Linked DNA regions of Homo sapiens. The protein of the gene in region 3 purifies or fractionates together with the protein of the main gene of each other region. This does not show direct contact. Each region holds a gene or a part of one and is shown on either strand. Other genes may lie near its edges.

What was found.
Region 1: the proteins of TLR4 (region 3) and PRKCZ purify together in Homo sapiens (affinity purification with western blotting, with the first as the bait; one study listed by BioGRID). This does not show direct contact.
Region 2: the proteins of TLR4 (region 3) and OPA1 purify together in Homo sapiens (affinity purification with western blotting, with the first as the bait; one study listed by BioGRID). This does not show direct contact.
Region 4: the proteins of TLR4 (region 3) and TRIM44 purify together in Homo sapiens (affinity purification with western blotting; one study listed by BioGRID). This does not show direct contact.
Region 5: the proteins of TLR4 (region 3) and STK11IP purify together in Homo sapiens (affinity purification with mass spectrometry; one large-scale study listed by BioGRID and IntAct). This does not show direct contact.
Region 6: the proteins of TLR4 (region 3) and TRIM69 purify together in Homo sapiens (affinity purification with western blotting, with the first as the bait; one study listed by BioGRID). This does not show direct contact.
Region 7: the proteins of TLR4 (region 3) and TICAM1 purify together in Homo sapiens (affinity purification with western blotting; 3 studies listed by BioGRID). This does not show direct contact.

Annotation. Positions count from the first base shown.
Region 1 is NC_000001.11:2,147,911-2,151,410, forward strand, and holds part of PRKCZ (protein kinase C zeta type), read left to right. Parts: intron 1-961; coding exon 962-1,014; intron 1,015-2,879; coding exon 2,880-3,068; intron 3,069-3,500. UniProt on the Homo sapiens protein: Calcium- and diacylglycerol-independent serine/threonine-protein kinase that functions in phosphatidylinositol 3-kinase (PI3K) pathway and mitogen-activated protein (MAP) kinase cascade, and is involved in NF-kappa-B activation, mitogenic signaling, cell proliferation, cell polarity, inflammatory response and maintenance of long-term potentiation (LTP).
Region 2 is NC_000003.12:193,641,708-193,645,207, forward strand, and holds part of OPA1 (dynamin-like GTPase OPA1, mitochondrial), read left to right. Parts: intron 1-1,057; coding exon 1,058-1,138; intron 1,139-1,267; coding exon 1,268-1,342; intron 1,343-1,665; coding exon 1,666-1,737; intron 1,738-1,820; coding exon 1,821-1,920; intron 1,921-2,267; coding exon 2,268-2,398; intron 2,399-3,500. UniProt on the Homo sapiens protein: Dynamin-related GTPase that is essential for normal mitochondrial morphology by mediating fusion of the mitochondrial inner membranes, regulating cristae morphology and maintaining respiratory chain function.
Region 3 is NC_000009.12:117,721,403-117,725,235, reverse strand, and holds the end of TLR4 (toll-like receptor 4 isoform A precursor), read right to left. Parts: 3' UTR 501-3,833; downstream 1-500.
Region 4 is NC_000011.10:35,812,775-35,815,640, forward strand, and holds part of TRIM44 (tripartite motif-containing protein 44), read left to right. Parts: 3' UTR 1-2,866. UniProt on the Homo sapiens protein: May play a role in the process of differentiation and maturation of neuronal cells. May regulate the activity of TRIM17. Is a negative regulator of PAX6 expression.
Region 5 is NC_000002.12:219,604,357-219,607,856, forward strand, and holds part of STK11IP (serine/threonine-protein kinase 11-interacting protein), read left to right. Parts: intron 1-1,251; coding exon 1,252-1,378; intron 1,379-1,599; coding exon 1,600-1,703; intron 1,704-1,838; coding exon 1,839-1,934; intron 1,935-2,119; coding exon 2,120-2,161; intron 2,162-2,355; coding exon 2,356-2,502; intron 2,503-2,622; exon of another isoform or gene 2,623-2,627; coding exon of another isoform or gene 2,628-2,696; coding exon 2,697-2,781; intron 2,782-3,500. UniProt on the Homo sapiens protein: May regulate STK11/LKB1 function by controlling its subcellular localization.
Region 6 is NC_000015.10:44,753,528-44,757,027, reverse strand, and holds part of TRIM69 (E3 ubiquitin-protein ligase TRIM69), read right to left. Parts: intron 2,129-3,500; coding exon 1,652-2,128; intron 661-1,651; coding exon 565-660; intron 1-564.
Region 7 is NC_000019.10:4,815,432-4,818,572, reverse strand, and holds the end of TICAM1 (TIR domain-containing adapter molecule 1), read left to right. Parts: intron 1-56; 5' UTR 57-94; coding exon of another isoform or gene 95-98; 5' UTR 99-195; coding exon 196-2,334; 3' UTR 2,335-2,641; downstream 2,642-3,141.

The DNA.
Region 1 (3,500 bases), on a different chromosome or scaffold from region 3:
CTGTTGTCCACTGACCTCTCCGTCTATCCATCTATCTATTGTCCACTGACCTCTCCATCTATCCATCTATTGTCCACTGACCTCTCCATCTATCCATCCATCTATTGTCCACTGACCTCTCCATCTATCCATCCACTGTCCACTGACCTCTCCATCTATCCATCCATCTATTGTCTACTGACCTCTCCATCTATCCATCCATCTATTGTCCACTGACGTCTCCATCTATCCATCTGTCTGTTGTCCACTGACCTGTCCACCCATCTGTCTGTTGTCCACTGACCTCTCCATCTTTCCGTCTGTTGTCCACTGACCTCTCCGTCTATCCATCTATCTGTTGTCCACTGACCTCTCCATCTATCCATCTATTGTCCACTGACCTCTCCATCTATCCATCCATCTATTGTCCACTGACCTCTCCATCTGTCCATCCACTGTCCACTGACCTCTCCATCTATCCACCTATTGTCCACTGACCTCTCCGTCTATCCATCCATCTATTGTCCACTAACCTCTCCATCTATCCATCCATCTATTGTCCACTGACCTCTCCATCTATCCATCCATTGTGCACTGACCTCTCCATCTATCCGTCTTCTATCCAGGCCTCCATTCATCCCCCATCTAGTCATCCTCCATCCATCCACCAGACATCCACTCCTGCCCCTACCCACCCATTCACTAGACACCAAAATCCGGTGACGAATTATTTGCAGATGGACCCCTGGGGACGTATGTCACGAATGTACATCCCCAGGTCCCATGGTCAGAGTCGGCAGGTGTGAGTGGGGCCCAGGAAACTGCATTTTCAGAAGACTCTAAATTAGAATCAGACATGGCTGCTGTGTGGATTCACCCTTCACCGTCACCCTGCAGAGGAGCAAGGTCCACAGGGTCGCTGTGTTCCCAGTGCGTTCCTGACCACACCGTAACGCCCCTTCCTTCCTCCCTCTCTCACCAGTTGCTTACATTTCCTCATCCCGGAAGCATGACAGCATTAAAGACGACTCGGAGGTGAGTGTGTGGAGCAGCTCGCTGCCATTTCCGACGTCCTCTGGAAAGTCTGTGAGCCTGTCTCTGGGGTAGTCACGGAAATCTAGATGTGAAATAGACATGGTCCGGGGTGTTGCTAACTAATCTTCACGGGTGTGGATGTCTAGAAGGAAGTCCTTATTCTTGGGTCTTACTTCAGGCATGTCCTTGATGAATACCTGCAGGCAGCTGTCCCCGCAGGTGGTCTGGGGACCACACCCTGCGGGGGAAGCCGTGCCCCACATCCTCTCCATTCAGGTGGTACAGTGGCCCAGGGGCTGGCTTTTGAGCTGCAATTTTTATCAAGTTGTGTCTGCACCATGCCTTCCGAATTGTGTTGCCTCATTTGGCCATCCTGGCAAACCCTCTGAAGCCCTTTCATGTCCTTCCCCAACTTGAGCCAAGAGGCTCAACTGAGCCTCACGTCTGTGGCCAGCTCTGCACCATAAACCCTGAGAAGGGAACAGAAGAGCTTGCTGCGTTCTCAGCCTCTGCTCGTAAAACCCAGGGAAGGACTGCACTAGCGAAGCCCACTCCTTTCCAGAGCACCAACAAGTGTCACCCTCACAACTCGTGCTCCTTCCTGGCCATCCTGTGTCTGGAGGGAGGCCGGGGCACTTAGAAAGCAGAATCTGAGGCTGAGCACGGCGACTCACACCTCCAATCCCAGCATTTTGGGAGGCTGCGCACATCGCTTGAGTCCAGGAGCTCGAGAACAGCCTGGGCAGCATAGCGAGACCCTGTTCCTACAAAAATAAATACAAAATAATTAGCTGGGCATGGTGGCACGGGCCTGTGGTCCTAGCTGCTTGGGAGGCTGAGGTGGGAGGATCGCCTGAGCCTGGGAGGTGGAGGCTGCAGTGAGCTGAGATCGCACCACTGCACTCCAGCCTGGGCGACAGAGGAAGAGTCTGTCTCAAAAAAAGCAGAATCCGGCTGGGCGCGGTGGCTCACGCCTGTAATCCCAGCACTTTGGGAAGCTGAGGCGGGCAGATCACGAGGTCAGGAGATGGAGACCATCCTGGCTAACACGGTGAAACCCCGTCTCTACTAAAAATACAAAAAAAAAAAAAGCTGGGCGTGGTGGCGGGCGCCTGTAGTCCCAGCTACTGGGGAGGCTGAGGCAGGAGAATGGCGTGAACCCGGGAGGTGGAGCTTGTAGTGAGTCGAGATCGTGCCACTGCACTCCAGCCTGGGCGACAGAGCCAGACTCCGTCTCAAAAAAAAAAAAAAAAAAAAAGCAGAATCCATTTTGCCGCACAGAACAGCACCTCCCAAGGAACCGCCTCCTCCACCCCGACCTCCTTGCCAGGTGTAGCTTGCGGGAGGCAGAGGCTTCTGTTCTTCCTCGGAGCGCCTTTCTCCTGGGTATTTCTAATAATTATTTCTAATAATGTGTGCCTGCCGGTTTGGGAGCTCTTGGCAGGCATTAGCTGCATTCGCTTTACCTTCCTTCCCCTGAGGGAGGGCACTGATCAGGAAGGATGGGCCCAGGCCCTGGGCCACATGTCCCTGTGGCCACCTCTTCAGCCCCACTGATAGGGCTGAGGGCCTGGGGGTCCCTCCCACCTGCAGCTGTGACCAGAGCCATGGTCTGTGGAACGAACAGCTTCTAGCTTTCTAGCACCTTCCTCAGAAGCACACAGCCTTAAATTCTTACCTTTCATGCCCCAGTTTAGATGGGAGTTTGGGGGTGGGATATGTGGGACGCAGAACTGAGACTCGAATCATGAGGCCCTGGGCTCTGAGGAGCAGGTCTCTGTTGGGACCGCATGAGTGATGCGTGGTCCTCTGAGTCTCCCGGGAACCCCCCTCTCACTTTCTGGGGTCTTGTTCTCCCTCCCTAGGACCTTAAGCCAGTTATCGATGGGATGGATGGAATCAAAATCTCTCAGGGGCTTGGGCTGCAGGACTTTGACCTAATCAGAGTCATCGGGCGCGGGAGCTACGCCAAGGTTCTCCTGGTGCGGTTGAAGAAGAATGACCAAATTTACGCCATGAAAGTGGTGAAGAAAGAGCTGGTGCATGATGACGAGGTAGGTGCCGCTTCTCATGGGGCCCGGGGGCCCGGGAACGCGCTGCCCTGGGGCCTCCTCCGGGCTTTAGCGGAATTAATCCATGCACGAGAGACCTAGCCTCACGTTGACGGAGTTTGTGCAAAATCAATAGTCATGCATCGTGTAATGACCAGGATGTGTTCTGGAAAGTGCCTGGTTAGGTAATGGCACTGTTGTGTGAACATCACAGTGTGCACTCCACAAACCCAAACAGCACAGCCAACTCCACAGCCAAGATGCACAGTGCAGCTCCTGCTCCCAGGCTGCAAGCCCGTACGGCTGTTAGTGCACTGCACACTGCAGGCAGTGAGGGGACCACCACGAGAGCACTCACGTGTCTAAGCTTAGAAAAGGTGAAGATGGGTATCGTGGTCTCTGCAACCTTCTCATGTATGGCCAACCACTGATACG
Region 2 (3,500 bases), on a different chromosome or scaffold from region 3:
CTCAGTAGAAGGAATTGTATTTTTAAAGTAAAATAACTATAGAGAAGCTAGAAAGGTGTCAATTAGGCATTTAGAAGTTCTTGTGAAACCACTGACTGTTAATATACATTGCTATAACATTTCTTGGCTGGGTGCAGTGGCTCATGCCTGTAATCCCAGCACTTTGGGAGGCTGAGGAGGGCGGATCACCTGAGGTCAAGAGTTCAAGACCAGCCTGGCCAACATGGCGAAACCCTGTCTCTACTAAAAGTACAAAAAACTTGCCAGGTGTGGTGGCGGGCATCTGTAATCCCAGCTACTCGGGAGGCTGAGGCAGGAGAATCACCTGAAACCGCGAAGTGGAGGTTGCAGTGAGCCGAGATCATGCCACTGCACTTCAGCCTGGGCGACAGAATGAGACTCGGTCTCAAAACAAACAAAAAAACAAACAAAACAAAATTTCTTACCCAAATATCACTCCTTGAGTGAAGCCTGTCGTAGCTCCCTTATCATCAGTTCCATTCTCTTCTGTGGCACCCTAGGTTTTGTCACTCTCTTCTATTATGTCTGTGTATATTTCTCCCAGCATGTGATGAGGTCTAAAACTGGGACAGTCAGCTCTGTGTTTCCCCACCTACAACACCTGACACATAGTTCACTCTCTATAGAGGTTGAATGAATGAATTGTCCTTTACCTAAATTCATCTTTGAGGTTAAATGCAAGGTTTCCTTTTAGTGTTTCAAGTTTTAGAGAGATGATTTTGGGCTTAGTGCTGTGTATAGCATTGACTGGGGAAAGAAAGAGGCAGCAGCATTTTAGGTCATAAGCGATATAAAGGAACCAGCATTCTTGTTGGGAAATCACAACATATATGACATATATACAAACAATACAAATACAAAATTATTGTCTTGTCAGAACTACCATGTTGACAGCTTCAGGGGGTGCCCCAGCAGTAGTGTGAAGGGACTCTTGGATTTGTGCAATGCAGTAGCCCTGTCTAGACCACATACGGGCTGTGGGAATTAATATTACTTATAAATACATCATTACCTCTCAGTTTTCTGTTACTATCAGGTGACTCTGAGTGAAGGTCCTCACCATGTGGCCCTATTTAAAGATAGTTCTCGGGAGTTTGATCTTACCAAAGAAGAAGATGTAAGTAAAATTCATCTAAGGTTGATATGTGTAATTTTATAACCTGGATGAGCTTATAAAAGACAGTTAAAGAATATTTGTGAATTAAGATTTTCTTAGATTTTCTTAGGATTTTGTGTTTTCCATTAGCTTGCAGCATTAAGACATGAAATAGAACTTCGAATGAGGAAAAATGTGAAAGAAGGCTGTACCGTTAGCCCTGAGGTAAGGGTTGCAATTCATTTCAGTGACGTTTTATGGAAATTAAATGTTTATGATTTCAAATAAATCAAAATCTAGGTATTGATGTTTAGATTGCTGCTATCTAGATATGTAGAGCTTTTAAAAAAAAATCCAAATAATATATCATTTTGTGGGTAATTTTCCAGAATAATTACTTTTAGGATCAGAGAAAGAATACCATTTTTGTGAGCGTCTTATCTGAATGGATGAGATATAGAATTTTTAGAATACATTTCACCAAAAAAAATTCTTGACAAATTCCCCCCAAACTTTAGCATTGTTTTATTTTTATTTTTCCTGAGTAGACCATATCCTTAAATGTAAAAGGCCCTGGACTACAGAGGATGGTGCTTGTTGACTTACCAGGTGTGATTAATGTAAGTATATACAAAACATGTATTTTATTTTATTCTTATTGTGTGAAGCATTTATAATGACATTTAAAACCTTTTTCTTTAAGACTGTGACATCAGGCATGGCTCCTGACACAAAGGAAACTATTTTCAGTATCAGCAAAGCTTACATGCAGAATCCTAATGCCATCATACTGTGTATTCAAGGTAAATCATATCAAAAGATTTTAATGTACTGATATGTTTTCTTCTTTAGCAATCCAAGCTTTGCATTAAATAGTTTGTGTTATGTAAACATACAAGATAAATGCATTTTTGCCTTCTCTTCGTATTCATTTTATTAGTAAATTAAATTGAAGTTGAAATTATTTTGATAAGTTTTACATAAGCATCATTGAAATTTTTATCGGCTAGGATTTCTTTTTAGTAAATAACGTAAATGTATTAAAATCTTTCTTGCTATAATGTAGACACAGGGGTATAATTTGTACTGAGTTTTAAAAGTCTACTTTACATCTTAAAATTCCACAGTGTCATTTTTTTATTTTTTTCAGATGGATCTGTGGATGCTGAACGCAGTATTGTTACAGACTTGGTCAGTCAAATGGACCCTCATGGAAGGAGAACCATATTCGTTTTGACCAAAGTAGACCTGGCAGAGAAAAATGTAGCCAGTCCAAGCAGGGTGAGGTCAAATTCTTTGTTGCGAGAATAGATTCTTTGTAAAAGCTCCAGCTGTGATAGGGATTTGTTATTTAAAAAAACAACAACAACAACAAAAAAACACCTTACAACTAAGATTTATTACAATGAAAGGATAAAGCAAAATCACAAAAGGAAATGGTACATGGTATGAAGTCTGAAGGAAACCAGGCTCACGTTTTTCCACTAGTTCATTCCCAGTAGACTCTACTGGGCACATTTAATTCCTCCAGCAACAAGCTGCTTGTTAGAGACTCAGCTCCTAAGGTTTTCATCGGAGGTTAGTCATTTCGGCACCCTCATGTACCAAAATTATTTCATACTCCCAAAAGGAAAGCATATGTTATAATTAAACCACATTACTTCAGTAGTGAGCCACTGTTATATAAGGAAAGGTTTATATCAGTGTAGGGAACTGTTTACCAGTTAAGTTTTCAGATACCAGCCAAAGACAGGCAGGCCTTTTTAAGGACAGTAGTCTCAGGCCTGCTGTGTTAACCCTTTTCTAGGTAGCCACCATAACCTCTGTTCTGCTTTCTTTTTAAGGGTAAGGCCTGCCGTGGCATTAATGGTTCTGATATGGAGAAGGGGAGAAGTGAGGTAGAAACAAATTTCTGTGGCCTCCTCCCCATCTTTCTTCATTCCTTTCATTTCTTTCAACTCTAGGATAGTGAGTTTATATTTCTTCTGAGATGCAACTGAAGCTTATTTCAGTCCTTTTTGTATAAAAGATTCAGCATTAGCTTAGGTGTAACTTGTCTTAAAGGAGGGATTCTCATCCCATTATTAATCTGAATGGGCTTCAGGGGGTAGAAACTCTAACATATGTGAAAGGTCTCTATGCAAATATGCATTTTTCTGGGTACATAGTCTTTTTTTTTTTTTAGTCACATTTAGAAATGGATTTTTGATCCTAAAAGAGTTGAGAAGCAGTGGATCCAAATATTAAAGAAGAAGGTGGGAGGGGAGGAAGGAGTAAAAGAAGACAATCCAGCTTGGTTAGAATTTAGATATTTGAAGAAAGTATGGAAAAATAATAATAGCTACCATTTATTGAGTGCTTCATGCCTGGCACTGTATCATAT
Region 3 (3,833 bases):
GATAAATGTCTTTGTCAGGGTCAACTGATGCCAATTAACTATTAGCTTTCATGTAATTCAGTATTTATACTATATTGTTTCTTTCCTCAACTCTGCTATACATGGTCTTCTACTTATTACTTCCCAGATTTATCATTTACATTTTTGCTCTTCTTTTAGGTTAAGAATTTAAAGATCCATCTGCAGAGCTGTTCTTTTACAATTTCCAGCTCAAATGGGCCCTCCTCTGTAAAGCCTTCTCTGATTGCTTCTAGGAAGAACAACCCTCCACTCCCCACCACCCTGCATTTTGGCATAACATTGTGTGTGTGTGTGTGTGTGTGTGTGTGTGTGTGTGTGTGTGTGTATTGACATGCCTCTCTTGCCAAAATGAATCTGAACTCCGTAACTTTGAGGGCACTTCTTGGTCATTTACTTCTGCAGCTTCATGTGCCTTTTCAACCACAGAGTAGCTTCTTCATAAATATTAGATGGCCAGATGAGTAAAATAAAGAACACTCTCAAGGAGAAAAAAGAAAGTGAGAACTTTATTTCCGTGTACTGAACTGCCAACAAAACTGAGAGGTAGATATTATCCCCATTTTAAGCCGAGACAAACAAGACAGATACCATAAGACAGGATCAGAACACAGATCTGTCTGATTCCCAAAGCTTTTGTTCTCTCTAATACATGAGAAGAAAGACAGGCACATTAATGGTCACATGCAGAAGCGGTTAATGGAGTTCACAGACAAGAAAGGAAGAAAGAGAGCAAGGAGAAAATGAACATCAAAAAATAAGGAAGTTGGAATACTGACAGGTCAAAGCAGAGAGAAAGACAAGACTTACTAAGCAAGAACTAACTTAGTGCACAATAAGAAAATGCAAAGGAAGGAAGATTGTGGTGACATTTAGAGAGCTTAGAATGGCAACAGAATTGAGCTTCAGATATTTGGAAGAGTTTTATTCAAAACCGTGGCAAGAGCCAGAAAAAGTAAAGGGCAGAGACAAGGGCCTGCAGCAGGCAAGGAGGAAGCATGATTTAGAGACAGATGCCACAGCTCAGGAAGGGAGCGGCTTGACCCTGCTGCTTGGAAAGGGGCATGCCTGGGAGTGCTGGCACTAAGGACACTGTTGGTTGCTATTTGCAGTGGCATAAGGATGAAGGATGATAGCAGCCCTATAGTGATATAAGGGACCATCATGAATGGCATTTCAAGAAAGAAAGCAGGAAGGAATGAGGAACCAGAGTTCTCTGTTTTTATCAATCCACAACTGTGAAATTTATGAAGAAAGTTTACTCTCAACTGACAAGCATTCACATATGGTAAGAGGCACAAGGGGTCGAATGGTACCTCTGTGACTAACAGTGTAGGAGCCTGGGAGATATCACTTTAAATGTCAAGTATGGGAAAGAAGAAAGAATAATTGCAAGGATTAGTCCACAAAAGTGCTTGAGTTTAGAGAAACTGTATTCTTCTCCTTTAAGATAATTAAAACTGACCAAGTATACACATTGCTGAAATAGAGGAGACTCCTGTAAGAATGACATATAGCTTAATTTAAAAGCTTTTGGAATATGTAGGCAAAATGGAAGATATTCTTGAGTTTATAACATGGGGCAAAAGAGAAACTCCTCCTTGGAGGAGTTTTCAATCTGTTATCATAATAACTCCTTGCATTTATGTAGCACTTCCCTAAATTTTATTGGAGGCTCTGTCTCATTTCATTCTCAAAACTTTCACAGAAGACAGCGTAAAAATAACGTTATCTCATAGATAAACAGAGACCAAAGAGCAAAGAGATCAAGAGATTTGCCTTTGTTCAACAGCCTGTTAGTGGTGGAGCCATTTCACTATCAATGTCTTGTTTCCACAGCCTTTCACCTATAACTCAATGGGGTTGATAGCTTAATCCTTTTCAGAAATGAGGGAACATGGGAAATATTATAAATACATGGATACATCATGACTTGACGAATGAGTCTCCCGTTTTGATATAGCATCATCAGGTTTAGAACGCTAAAACCACATGTTAAGGATGCTGGAAAATCTGGATGATGAAGTTACACCTCTAATCATAGAATAGAATTCCTGGAATGGACATTTACTCCAATTGCCACAATTTATAGGTAAGGAAACAGCCCTGGAGATGTGAACATGCTAGAATGTCAGAGAGCTGGCCTGACCCTCAGCAGCCGTTTGGTTCATTCCTTTCTGACTGCCAATCTTTCTTGTGACACCTTCAAAATTTTTCCAAATCTGCATACCTTTTATATAATTCATTTCATCCCGTTTTTTTCCTAAGTTGGCCCACATTTTAAACTTAAATATATTTTAAAGAGATAATTGATTCTTAGCTAGTCACAAAATTTATTATAAATAAAAGTAACCATGAAAATAAACATATAACCACTAAAGGTAATACATTCATCTGTCAACCACATAAAATCATCTTATTTACTAACATGTCACACTTTTGAAAATGCTGATCTGACCTAAATGTCCCATTTTACAAATGAGAGACCTGAGCCCAGAGGTGCGCTCCCGGTGGCAGACCTGAATCCTAAACCTCACTACCTCTATCGCTGTTCACTTATCTGATCTCAGCTGTTAATATGCCAGAAACTGGCAAAGGTATTCCCTGCCTTTAGTGGTGCTAGACTCTCAGGTGCTGAAACCACAGCTAATTCAGCCAAAGATGATGTGTAGAGAGGACTCAGAAGGCCCTATTAATAACTCAGCTGAGCACAGCACTAGCCAGATATTCATCCCCTGCCATTAATTTCAAAAGTGCTCTTTGCAAGCAGGAAAATTTTGACAGCAGGTGTTTCCCACTGGGGAGCAGTAGACTCCTCAGAAGACTCAGGGTCTCAGCTTAAAGACCAAAACTACTGAATTTCAACCGTCAGTGATCACTTCCCCAATTCCCCTCAACGATAAGGAAAAAGGAGTTTCTGGGAAGATTGGCAGTGGCCCAGCAAGTTTTCGCAAGGAAATCCTGTGTTTTTCAGAGGGGAAAGTCATTTTTGGAATCTTAGTACTCAAGGCAAGATGAATACTTAGCAAAAGTGGAGTTAAATTTTACTTTGATATATTTTGGACTGGAAACAAAAAACAACATCACATTGACAACAGATGCCTCAGAGAGTTTAGAAAAGACCACAACATTTTTCTGGTATATATTTATGTGGGGTCTCAGCTACCCAGGATGATAAAGAAGGGAAAATGACAACGTGATAGGTAGAAACTAGGAGAACTAAAATGATTGCATGGACACAACATCTAAATGGATGTAGTGAGCTCACCATCAAATAGGCCAATCCTAGTATCCCAAAGAGTCTGATCTAGTGGGATTGAGAAGAATCAACTATACAGTGTAAAATAAAAATACATTATCTGACCTTGCCTGGGCTATCATGAATCTTAGCAATAAATCTCAAGAACAAAACCAATAACCATATTAAATGTGGGTGGTTATTCTCCATTTTCCATTATAACAGTAATTCCCAAATCTGTCTGTGCACGAAAACTGGGAGAATATTTTAAAATATAAATTCCTTAGGACTAACCTCTGATATTGAACCAGAATTTCTAGCAATAAAGATCATAAAGATAGATAATTAGTACCTAGATACACAGACACATAGATAGCAGAATGAAAGTCATTAAGTGATTCTTAAGCCAAGCATTTGTTTAAAAGTGAGAGTTTGGGACCTGCTCAACTTTGTCATCTTCATATATGGTTTCCATTTTAATCGTTGTATTGAAATAAAATCAGCTGTAGACTGCCTGGAATTCTTTGTCAAAATGAAGTTTGCAAAAAGAGGCTAGAAGAAGATAGAAAAGATGTAA
Region 4 (2,866 bases), on a different chromosome or scaffold from region 3:
TGCTTTGTATAGCCTGTAAAATGCAATGTACAGTGAGGGAAAGAAAGTCTAAGGGTAGCAGTCAAATCTTCTGGCCTGAAACTGTACTTTTGGAAGGGAGAACTGTTAGACTTGCTTTATCTTCTTTATTCCAAGGCCATAAATAAGAAAATCAACGAGAGGCAAAACCATGTCTTCTTTTGCTATAGCGTTAGAATCCTGAAAGTCAGCCAGCTCTGACACTGAGTCTGTGATTTAATTAAACATGTTGAAGGCTCTCCAACAGCTTGACGTCAGGCCAGCTTCATATTCTTGGAAAGGGACAACAGCAAAAGGAGCTTATCTGTTTTAAAGTTCACTTACTGAGTTCAGCTGTCACGGCCACAGCATACCATTTGCCTTATAAAAATGGCCCACAACCTTCACAATATTTTAGGATTCATGGCAACTCATTTACCTAGGGCTTAGCCACCTGATAGCTTTACCTATCCCTATTTCCTGAACACAAAATCTAAACCAGTGGTTTGACAATGAGTAACTGAGACAGAACTAGAAAAATCTAGAACCTCTGCTGAACCCATCAAAAGTGACTGAGAATTAAGAAGTAAGCAAACAAGGCTTCCAACCAATTGAAATAAATACCATGAAGCAAACGCATAAGACAAAGGCCATACATCTAGTCATCAGGCACCTCCTCAGAACCTATTTGCTCTTCCTTCACACATATTTCTAACTGTAAAGGAAAGAAACAGACTTTTAGAGGAAACAAGAAGGAAAAAGGAGGACAGCAATAGAGAAAATGGAAATTTTGAGTAGACTGCAAAGCTCCAAAGCCCTGATATATGGGTTATTTAGTGTCAAAAACAGTCTATACACATCTCAATCTTTAAGAGCCTCACTGTATCATGGGACAATATTCTATTTAAAATGATGACCCTGTGCACCATACATAAAAAAACTATGCTTAGAAGACAAAAATATGTATATCAAACATTTTAGAAATATTTACATCCCAATGGTTAAAAAAAAAAACTTTTAGGAATTAAAAGGAATAAACCTTTGACCATCCAGAATATTTAGCTAAATCAAACAGTGTATATCCCCCTAGCTGACTTTTATTGTTTCATGAGCCTCTGGTGTTCAGAGAGTTTTTTTCACAGCTTTGTAAGTGACTTTCATGCTACAGTGCTTTGCATATAATGGCATGAACAGTGGAGGTGCCAACTTTCCAATGTGATGAATAAAACTAATAACTAGAATACAGATCAAATTCTGTTACAACAAATACTGCTACCATAAAAGTCACTTAAGCATCCCTGTTAGTTCTAAGCCCCTGTCGATTGCCCATTTATTTTAGGCAATAGTCATTCAACAAAATTGGAGCATAATAAAAAGAAACTGGACCTCAGCGCAAGTTGAGTGTTACACAATTTAACCTGTAATAACAGGTTCTCACTTGTATTTCTCCAGCTCTTTGCTGTAAGAAGAATAAACGTTATGTAGATATAATACCAGCGTGACAGCTTGTGGTTGGTGGTTTCTAGAAGAAATAATTCAGAAGCAAAAGACACATGAAGTTATGTGGCAGTTCCTCACTAGGGAATTTGGTCTCCAGGGCCACTTTTGACCTTAATCCATGTTGGAGCCATCAATCAAAGAATTGCTTGCATCTAATAATGGTGTAATGCCAATACTAAGCCCTGGAACGAAGATAGGATTCATTTCTCATGGATTATTGAGCACTCTGGGGTAACCTGGCCCTGATCTGATGACGCTAAGATTTAAAAACCCAGATGCATGTGACTAGAACTATCTTTTCTCCCATGATGCACTGCTTTCAACACTGCATGACTGTAAAAACATGTGCCACGCTGATTATATATAGAGATGGTCTAAATCAGCTGCATCCCATTTGGTACCCAGGCAAGGATTTTTCCATACCTATCTTTTTGCTGGTGGTAATGATGAGTTTTGTCACTTGCTATAACATTCTCTGTCCGTCTTTTTTCTTTTATGTAAATACTTTTGTGACTTCATTGTAACCAGCATTTTGTAATACTCTTAACAGCAGAGGGGATTAAATCATGATTCACTTCTGAACAGTACAATCAGCAGTAGGAAAACGAGGAGGGAGGGAGAGGGAAATTGTCCACCACTTCCCAATGATAATGCCTGGCTCGGACCCCAGATTCACATCATACTTGAAGTTCATAAATTCTGGGCACTGCTCAGCTTGAGGAGGCAGGCATTGCTCCTTCATATTTCAGGGTGAGACAAATGCTCTGTTGAAGCCATGCCACTACAGGATACATTCACCTCTGCTTGCTTTCCTCCCTAAGCCAGAGTGTAGTTAAACATTTATATGTCCCAGGCCAGGAGATCAAATTAAGAGGAGGTTAGCTACTTTCCCTGGCTCTTAAAAACATTTGAGTCCAAGTATGGTTCTCTGGCTTGAGGGTGGCCATTTGTTGCCTCACTGTTTTTATTAGGACATCTGGAGATTAGAGGTGTTAATTGGAAGTAACTTTTCTATATTTGGTTTCTCTCCACACATTATGAGACCTTTTAGACCCAGTTGGATGGCTGTATCCTAGTATGAAATTCAGCTTCTAAGTAGGAAGAACTATGATAGAGGAACAAGATTGCTCTTTGACTTGGTGATAGTAGGGCAATAGGGAGTGTCAGTAGGGTAGTTTCAGGTGGGGAGGATGACAAACCACTGATAACAATAAAAATGGGTATTTCTCAACACTCAAGCCAATTTCCCATTTGATAACAAGTAGGTTCTGATCTATTTTCCCCAAATTAATATTTTCCCTGGAAGATTCTGACCTGTCTGATCAAATAAAGGCATTCCTCTGAGAGTATACCTAGCCCACTTGTGGCC
Region 5 (3,500 bases), on a different chromosome or scaffold from region 3:
AGGAGCCTGAGTAGGGTTTGATCAAGGTGAGAACCTCCTCTAATTCAGGGAAAGAAGAGACACTCCTCTTTCCCCTGAACAATATAAATCCTTTTCTTCCTTGATCACCTTTTGTTCACTAAAAACCAACTGAGCCATTTATTGGGACTTGGTAGTGGATGAATTTTGCTGGATGGTGAGAGTGACCAGGCATTTAATGGGGGACATTTCTATGGAAACAAAAAGGGAAACAAAGATGAATGGTTGGAGCAGACTATAAATCCATTTTCTGAGTCCAGAGGGCAGCCAGTTGAGATTTCTAGGTGTTGAGCTCTATGTTTCTTTAGATGGTGGAATGAGGATAGCAGTGGCAACCGATGGATTTCTTCGTTTGTAGTTTGAATGTTTGTGGTGATAGCATAGACAGTGTTGCAGTCACGGTTATTTCCCTGAACAGAGCCTGGAAGATACAGAAGTGTCAGTGGACTTTTTTCCTTTTTTTTTTTTTAATGAGACAGAGTTTCGCTCTTGTTGCCCAGGCTGGAGTGCAATGGCACGATCTTGGCTCACCGTAACCTCTGCCTCCCGGGTTCAAGCGATTCTCCTGCCTCAGCCTCCCAAGTAGCTGGGATTACAAGTGTGTGCCACCACGCCCAGCTAATTTTTGTATTTTTAGTAGAGACGGGGTTTCACAATGTTGGCCAGGTGAGTCTCGAACTCCTGGCCTCAAGTGATCCCCCCTCTTTGGCCTCCCAGAGTGCTGGGATTACAGGCATGAGCCACTGCACCTGGCCGGCTGGGCATTTTAAAAGAGGGCGGCGGGGAGTGGGCAGGGGAATGGTAGGGCCTTGAGCAGAGCTGGGGGAGTGGAAATCAGGTTGGTCCACATGAAACCCATCTGAGTTTGCTAACTAACTGGCACTTACCAAAATAAGGCCCTTACCCTTTCACAGAGACTGGGAGACGGGGCCCTATCTTCAGGAGTTGGCTGAAACAAATGGGAAATTCTTTTGGCAGCTTTGACTTTTCCCAGGCAGGAATTTAAGGGGCTTGGAGTTGCCATGCTCAGGGTGTGGCCTTGAACTGTTAGGAACAGTGCTGGTGTTGTTCAAGTCTTTTAACGTGGGAGTAGGGGTGGATGAAATCATTTGTGCTGAGTGTGTGCAGTTTTATATAGGCCAAGGTTGAGGCCTAGTCCAGAAGAGGTCTCAGAGGACCCTGGCTAGAGTTTGGTCAACGAGATAATCTTTTTCTCCCCTGTACCCCTGCCAGGATTTGTGTGAGCTCCACCATCTGGACATCTCCTATAATCGCCTGCATTTGGTGCCAAGAATGGGACCCTCAGGGGCTGCTCTGGGGGTCCTGATACTGCGAGGCAATGAGCTTCGGAGCCTGCATGGTGAGTGGGGGTGTGTGATGGGGCAAGCATGGAGGGGAAGGGGGAGAGTGAGGCTGGGGCTGGCCTGGGGACCATGTGCCTCTAGAGCCTTGAGAGGGCTTATGGGGAGTGCAGGGGTGCTCTGGCCGGTCTTTCTGCTGCAACCTCCCCCAGTGCATGCACCACACTCACTTGCGTGTACTCATCCACATGCTCTTCCTTCCTTCTTGCGTCCACCCCAGGCCTAGAGCAGCTGAGGAATCTGCGGCACCTGGATTTGGCATACAACCTGCTGGAAGGACACCGGGAGCTGTCACCACTGTGGCTGCTGGCTGAGCTCCGCAAGGTGAGATGGGAATGCATCAGGGGCCTGGGAACCACCCTTGCACGTACCCCCCCATGCTGGTTTGGTCAGTGCCTTCTTCACACAGGGAGGGCCAGGGCCCCAGGCCCTCCTCATTCTCCCCTTCCTGCCCCTCAGCTCTACCTGGAGGGGAACCCTCTTTGGTTCCACCCTGAGCACCGAGCAGCCACTGCCCAGTACTTGTCACCCCGGGCCAGGGATGCTGCTACTGGCGTGAGTGATCGTCCTGTGTCCACTCTTCTTCCCCTTTCCTGCCCAGTCCTCCCCCACCTTGCACCCTCTTGCCATCCCTGGGTGAGGGGCCAAGGACCTGGACCCTGCTTACTGTGTTCTTAATACCTGGAGCTCAGCAGGATGGGCCTACCACATACTCCCTCCCCCTTTTTGTCTTTGCTCAGTTCCTTCTCGATGGCAAGGTCTTGTCACTGACAGATTTTCAGGTCGGTGTGGTTGGGGGGCGAGGACTGTTGGGGGAAGACACGAAGGGAGGGCGCTGGGGAGAGAACAGAGGGCTGGCTGGTGACAGGGTCTTCCTGGTCAGTGGAAAGTAGGGTCCCGCCTTTTGGCTGGCTTGGGCAAGGCAGAGGTGCTCCCAGGCTCCAACCTCTCTCTCCTTCCTGTCGTCACGTGCCAGACTCACACATCCTTGGGGCTCAGCCCCATGGGCCCACCTTTGCCCTGGCCAGTGGGGAGTACTCCTGAAACCTCAGGTGGCCCTGACCTGAGTGACAGCCTCTCCTCAGGGGGTGTTGTGACCCAGCCCCTGCTTCATAAGGTTAAGGTAAGCAGCGTCCTCCGCTGCCTTGTGCCTGCGGTTGGGTGTCTCTCCGGGGACTCTGGGCTACAGTGGGCAGGGAATGGTAGGAACTGTGCTTGCACGTGGTCAAGGTTTCTTTGATAGGTTGGATGGCCAGCCGTGGATGGCAGGGCTGGAGGCTTGGCTTTCACAGAACTTCTTCCCTCCACCAACCTCAGAGCCGAGTCCGTGTGAGGCGGGCAAGCATCTCTGAACCCAGTGATACGGACCCGGAGCCCCGAACTCTGAACCCCTCTCCGGCTGGTAAGTCAGCTTCATCCCACTAACCTCTCTCGTCCCCAGCGAGCTCACTCTAATTTTTAAGTTACAGTGAAGATCTGCTGGAAGAAATGTTATTTTTTGTTGGGGTAGAGTATTATAGAGGGCTTCTTAGTCTTTTTTCTTTTCTTTTAGTTTAGGGAAAGGAGAAGACTGCTTCTGGGAGCATTTTGAAAACTTTTCGAGGAACATTAATTTTGTGGGGTGTCAAGAGATCATGTAGGCCAGGTGCAGTGGCTTACATCTGTAATCCCAGCACTTTGGGAGGCTGAGGTGGGAGGATTGCCTGAGCCCAGGAGTTTGAGACCAGCCTGGGCAACATAGAGAGATGTCCATTTCTACAAAAAAATTTTTAAATTAGCCTGACGTGGTGGTGTGCGCCTGTAGTCCTAGCTACTTGGGAGGCTGAGGCAGGAGGATCGCCAGAGCCTGATAGTTCAAGGTTGCAGTGAGCTATGATCATGCCACTGCACTCTAACCTGGTGACAGAGTAAGACCTTATCTCTTAAAAAAAAAAGTAAAAAACCCCAAAACAAAAGAAAGTGTATATGTATATATATAAAATAATAGGATTGTGGCCAGAGAAGTTTGAGAAATGTGAGGTTGAAGAGAAATAGGTGTGTCAGCTGCCGGCCGTCTCGGGCCCTTCAGGATGCTATCATGTATGCTGAGTCTCTGGAAGTAGCATAGGATGCGCAGCTTGG
Region 6 (3,500 bases), on a different chromosome or scaffold from region 3:
TTAGCACCCCCAATCTAGGGACTGATTTGCCAAAGCTCTAGCCATTAATGTTGTCCTAGAGTGCCTATGAAGTTGAAAGTGCAGACAATAGCTTTATTTAGCTTGGAGGAAGCTAAGAAGATCAAATCAGCTGGGAAAAGCCTATGACCTTAGAGACCTAGTCCAGAGGTGTCTGGTTATAAACTCAAAGGAAATAAAGGTATTTCTTTGGACATAGCAATCTTTAGTGATTGATTTTTTTCTAATAAGTTCCTTTTTTTTTTTTGCCATAGATAAAGCCAAAGACCAGACACATTTCAACGCCACGACAGTCACCTGGTGACTGAACTATCGAAAAGATCAGCATATTAGGGGAAAGGTTAATCTGCTCTGTTGATCAGCTATTAGGAACCTACTCCACCACCATATTCCTTTCCACCCTACAGACTCAGTTTTCCAATTCCATAGCCTAGGTACCATTTAGTGTGTAGATAATATATGTTAGGCACCTTTGTACCCATAGCTGAAGTTACATGGAGGGTGTGTTCCAGTTCTATCTCATAACCCCTCTTTCTTGCTCCTCACCTTGTGAGCAGCAATAGCTTCCTTCTGCATGTTCCTCAGGGTCTGAAGCTCCTTCAGAGTTGTCTCCAGTTGACCCTGTTGGATGGCAAGCTCCTCCTGGGAATATCAAATAGAATTAACCCAGACTAACTCGGGAGATGAAGGACCATAAAGGACATCTTCCCCAAGGCCCCAGTGTGCAAGAAAAAAGCAAGCTCTTGCTGCAAAAATCTTCCCCTTCCCCTGTATCATAGTTCTTGTCTCGTTCAAGAATTGTGAAAAAGAAAAGAAAAGGCCGGGTGTGGCAGCTCACATCTGTAATCTCAGCACTTTGGGAGACTGAGATGGGAGGATCACTTGGGCCCAGGAGTTTGAGACCAGCCTGGGCAACATAGTGAGACCCATCTCAAAACAAAGAAAAAAAAAGAATTATGGAGTAAATTACAGCTTAAAACTTAGTTTTTCTCTCTTAGTAGCTAGCTACAGGGATTTGAAGAAGGGAATAGAACTCTACACATTTTCCACTCTAGTTATATACTGTTCTCAGCATCTATCATTTTACTTGTGTTGTTCTCACTTGGAACATTTGTTTCTTCCTTCTGCCCTTCAAAATCCAAATGATTTCCCAGTTCAAGTCCTTTCCCTTTCTTTCACTATATGTCCCCTATTTCATTTTTCTCTAATAGTCTCAGAAATTCTAAACCCTTAAGAATTACAAATGTGACAAAATTTAACTTTTAACACGAGGCTATCTTAATATTGCTTCTGTTGTTTTCTTCATTTTAAACTTAACCAAATTTTGAATTTTTTATAACAAGAGCAATATCTTATCTATCCATATTCTACACAGTGTTTAGCAGAGTGCTACCATGGCAGAGTTTAGGTACAGATTTGATTGAGGGAGTAAGCCAGGGCTCCTCCACTGTTCCTTTCCTATAAGCAGCAACTCTAGAAAAAGAACTTTGCAAGATACGTTGTACTTTCTGAGCAGTCTGGGCTTTCTAATCATCATTTGAATAAAGGGATGGGGTTGGAAGAAAGAAGAAGCCCTATGAAATATTTTTCCTAGTTTTTCTAAGGGATTGTTCAAGGCCCAGGGCTCACCCACCGTGAAGAAATGGACAGCATCAGAGATTTGCAGGAACTCCTTAGACTGCCCCACAGACAACCGAGCATCCTTGCATTGAAAGCAGATCAGTTTCCCATCTGGTTTACTGAACAGTTTCAGGTTCTCTCCATGCTCTGGGCACTGTGGATGGCCCTTGAGTAAGGGTAACTTCTTAATCTTCTCTACCAACTTGTCCAGTACAGGGTTGAATGTACAGTTGTTATACTGACATAGCATCTTACACTCAGGACAGAATGTTTCCTTTGCTTGCAGCCTCCAAAAGTCTTGGATACAGGCTTCACAGAAGTTGTGGCCACAGCTTAGCATCAGTGGGTCTCGGAACCAATCATTGCACAGAGGGCAGTGTAGCTCCATAGTAATATCTTGTATCACCACTTTAGAGGGTAGGTGGGTGATTGAATCATTCATTTCAACATAGTCGCCTGGATCGATGTTGGAGGAGGGGTTGGTGGATACCTTTAGAAAAGAACAGCTAAAATGAGTTTATCTTTCTTGTTGCCCATTTTAACACTCCAGGATGATGGCGCCATTCCTAAAGGAGCTGAAAATTGGTACAACTAAAGTAAAAGCACATAATCTCTCCTTTGAAAGTGAACCAGTAACTTGAGTGTTTTCTGAAATTATAGCGTATGATGCTATTTAAACTTTAATAAAGAATCAAGGCAGAGGAAGAAACAGTACTAAATCAAAGAAATGTACTTTGTTGTACATCTCTCTCTTTACCCACTTTCCCCAAGTGTCTTTTGAAAGTTTTATTTTTCAACTTCTGCTCTACTAGTTATTACCTTTATTTTATTTTTGTTTTCTAGAAATTATATACAAAGAATTGGAAAATCAATCAGATTCCTTAGTCAGTAGTGTGATATCGTCAACCATCCAGGGTCCCCTTCACTCCTTTTTAAAAAAACACATTTCAGGCCAGGCGCAGTGGCTCATGCCTGTAATCCCAGCATTTTGGGAGGCCAAGGCGGGCAGATCACGAGGTCAGGAGATTTAGACCATCCTGGCTAACACAGGATGGTTAGCCATCTCTACTAAAAATCTCTACTAAAAATACAAAAATTAGCTGGGTGTGGTGGCAGGCGCCTGTAATCCTAGCTACTTGGGAGGCTGAGGCAGAAGAATTGCTTGAACCCAGGAGGCAGAGGTTGCAGTAAGCCAAGACCACGCCATTGCACTCTAGCCTGGGCAACAACAATGACACTCCATCTCAGAAAAAAAAAAAAAAAAAGGAATGACCAACAATGAACTGAGCCTAAGAGATCCACAAGACACTATCAAACAGACATAATAAGAATTTCAGAAAGAAAGGAGAAAAATGCAGAAAGAATGTTTGAAGCAGCCGGGCACTGCGGCTCAAGCCTGTAATCCCAATACTTTGGGGTGCCGAGGCAGGTGGACCACCTGAGGTCAGGAGTTAGAGACCAGCCTGGCCAACATGGTGAAACCCTGTCTCTACTAAAAATACAAAAAATTAGCTGGTCATGGCGGCAGGCACTGGTAATCCCTGCTACTTGGGAGGTTGAGACAGGAGAATTGCTTGACCTGGGAGGTGGAGGTTATAGTAAGCTGAGATCACTCCACTGCACCCCAGCTTGGGCAACAAGAGTGAAACTCTGTCTCAAAAAAAAAAATTTTTGAAAAAGTAATGGCTGAAAACTTCCAAAATATGATGAAATTTTACATCCAAGAAGCTCAACAAACTCCAAGCAGGATAAATTCAAAGAGATCCACAATGAGACACATTATAATTGAAGTGTCCAATGACAAGGAAGGAATCTTGAAAGCAGCAAGAGAGAAATGACTCTTCACATACAAGGGATTCTCA
Region 7 (3,141 bases), on a different chromosome or scaffold from region 3:
TTCCCGTGCTGACCTTTCTTGGGGGTAAGTGTGTTTGCTTCTCCTGTTTCCTACAGATCTGCTTGGGCAGCTCCTGCAGAACCTGGAACAGTGAATGGGTAGGGGACACTGGGCGTGCAGAAGGCGGGGGGCAGTGTGGAACATGCCTTCACCACCTCCAGCTTCTGCTGCCGGAGGCTGCACCCACCTGTGCCCATGGCCTGCACAGGCCCATCACTTCCTAGCGCCTTCGACATTCTAGGTGCAGCAGGCCAGGACAAGCTCTTGTATCTGAAGCACAAACTGAAGACCCCACGCCCAGGCTGCCAGGGGCAGGACCTCCTGCATGCCATGGTTCTCCTGAAGCTGGGCCAGGAAACTGAGGCCAGGATCTCTCTAGAGGCATTGAAGGCCGATGCGGTGGCCCGGCTGGTGGCCCGCCAGTGGGCTGGCGTGGACAGCACCGAGGACCCAGAGGAGCCCCCAGATGTGTCCTGGGCTGTGGCCCGCTTGTACCACCTGCTGGCTGAGGAGAAGCTGTGCCCCGCCTCGCTGCGGGACGTGGCCTACCAGGAAGCCGTCCGCACCCTCAGCTCCAGGGACGACCACCGGCTGGGGGAACTTCAGGATGAGGCCCGAAACCGGTGTGGGTGGGACATTGCTGGGGATCCAGGGAGCATCCGGACGCTCCAGTCCAATCTGGGCTGCCTCCCACCATCCTCGGCTTTGCCCTCTGGGACCAGGAGCCTCCCACGCCCCATTGACGGTGTTTCGGACTGGAGCCAAGGGTGCTCCCTGCGATCCACTGGCAGCCCTGCCTCCCTGGCCAGCAACTTGGAAATCAGCCAGTCCCCTACCATGCCCTTCCTCAGCCTGCACCGCAGCCCACATGGGCCCAGCAAGCTCTGTGACGACCCCCAGGCCAGCTTGGTGCCCGAGCCTGTCCCCGGTGGCTGCCAGGAGCCTGAGGAGATGAGCTGGCCGCCATCGGGGGAGATTGCCAGCCCACCAGAGCTGCCAAGCAGCCCACCTCCTGGGCTTCCCGAAGTGGCCCCAGATGCAACCTCCACTGGCCTCCCTGATACCCCCGCAGCTCCAGAAACCAGCACCAACTACCCAGTGGAGTGCACCGAGGGGTCTGCAGGCCCCCAGTCTCTCCCCTTGCCTATTCTGGAGCCGGTCAAAAACCCCTGCTCTGTCAAAGACCAGACGCCACTCCAACTTTCTGTAGAAGATACCACCTCTCCAAATACCAAGCCGTGCCCACCTACTCCCACCACCCCAGAAACATCCCCTCCTCCTCCTCCTCCTCCTCCTTCATCTACTCCTTGTTCAGCTCACCTGACCCCCTCCTCCCTGTTCCCTTCCTCCCTGGAATCATCATCGGAACAGAAATTCTATAACTTTGTGATCCTCCACGCCAGGGCAGACGAACACATCGCCCTGCGGGTTCGGGAGAAGCTGGAGGCCCTTGGCGTGCCCGACGGGGCCACCTTCTGCGAGGATTTCCAGGTGCCGGGGCGCGGGGAGCTGAGCTGCCTGCAGGACGCCATAGACCACTCAGCTTTCATCATCCTACTTCTCACCTCCAACTTCGACTGTCGCCTGAGCCTGCACCAGGTGAACCAAGCCATGATGAGCAACCTCACGCGACAGGGGTCGCCAGACTGTGTCATCCCCTTCCTGCCCCTGGAGAGCTCCCCGGCCCAGCTCAGCTCCGACACGGCCAGCCTGCTCTCCGGGCTGGTGCGGCTGGACGAACACTCCCAGATCTTCGCCAGGAAGGTGGCCAACACCTTCAAGCCCCACAGGCTTCAGGCCCGAAAGGCCATGTGGAGGAAGGAACAGGACACCCGAGCCCTGCGGGAACAGAGCCAACACCTGGACGGTGAGCGGATGCAGGCGGCGGCACTGAACGCAGCCTACTCAGCCTACCTCCAGAGCTACTTGTCCTACCAGGCACAGATGGAGCAGCTCCAGGTGGCTTTTGGGAGCCACATGTCATTTGGGACTGGGGCGCCCTATGGGGCTCGAATGCCCTTTGGGGGCCAGGTGCCCCTGGGAGCCCCGCCACCCTTTCCCACTTGGCCGGGGTGCCCGCAGCCGCCACCCCTGCACGCATGGCAGGCTGGCACCCCCCCACCGCCCTCCCCACAGCCAGCAGCCTTTCCACAGTCACTGCCCTTCCCGCAGTCCCCAGCCTTCCCTACGGCCTCACCCGCACCCCCTCAGAGCCCAGGGCTGCAACCCCTCATTATCCACCACGCACAGATGGTACAGCTGGGGCTGAACAACCACATGTGGAACCAGAGAGGGTCCCAGGCGCCCGAGGACAAGACGCAGGAGGCAGAATGACCGCGTGTCCTTGCCTGACCACCTGGGGAACACCCCTGGACCCAGGCATCGGCCAGGACCCCATAGAGCACCCCGGTCTGCCCTGTGCCCTGTGGACAGTGGAAGATGAGGTCATCTGCCACTTTCAGGACATTGTCCGGGAGCCCTTCATTTAGGACAAAACGGGCGCGATGATGCCCTGGCTTTCAGGGTGGTCAGAACTGGATACGGTGTTTACAATTCCAATCTCTCTATTTCTGGGTGAAGGGTCTTGGTGGTGGGGGTATTGCTACGGTCTTTTAATTATAATAAATATTTATTGAATGCTTCCGCAGCGCCATTGTCTTCTGGGACACCTTCTGCCTGGCTATTTGTTATAAAACACGTGGCTCCCGCTCCCGCAAAAGGGAACAGGAAGCGGGAAGTGCACGCCTCTTCTTGGAGGGCATAGACCGGCCTTTGCCCTCATCCCATTGGCCAGAATATAATCACATGGCCCTGCTCCTGCCGCAAGGAACCCTGGGAAATGTAGTCCTTTCTGAACGGCCGTGTGCCTCCCGAGTCGGGGTTCTAATACCAGGAAAGGTGGAGGGAAAAGATATTGTTGAGGGCGGGGAGGGTGCAGCCTGGGCAGCATGGTGAGACCGCGTCTCTTCAAAAATACAAAAGTTAGCTGGGCGTGGTGGTGCACGCCTGTAGTCTCAGGTACTCAGGAGGCTGAGGTGGGAGGATTGCTTGAGCCCAGGAGCCGAAGGCTGCAGTGAGCTATGAATGAATGAATGAATGAATGAATGAATGAGTGAGCGAGTGAGTGAATGAATGAATGAG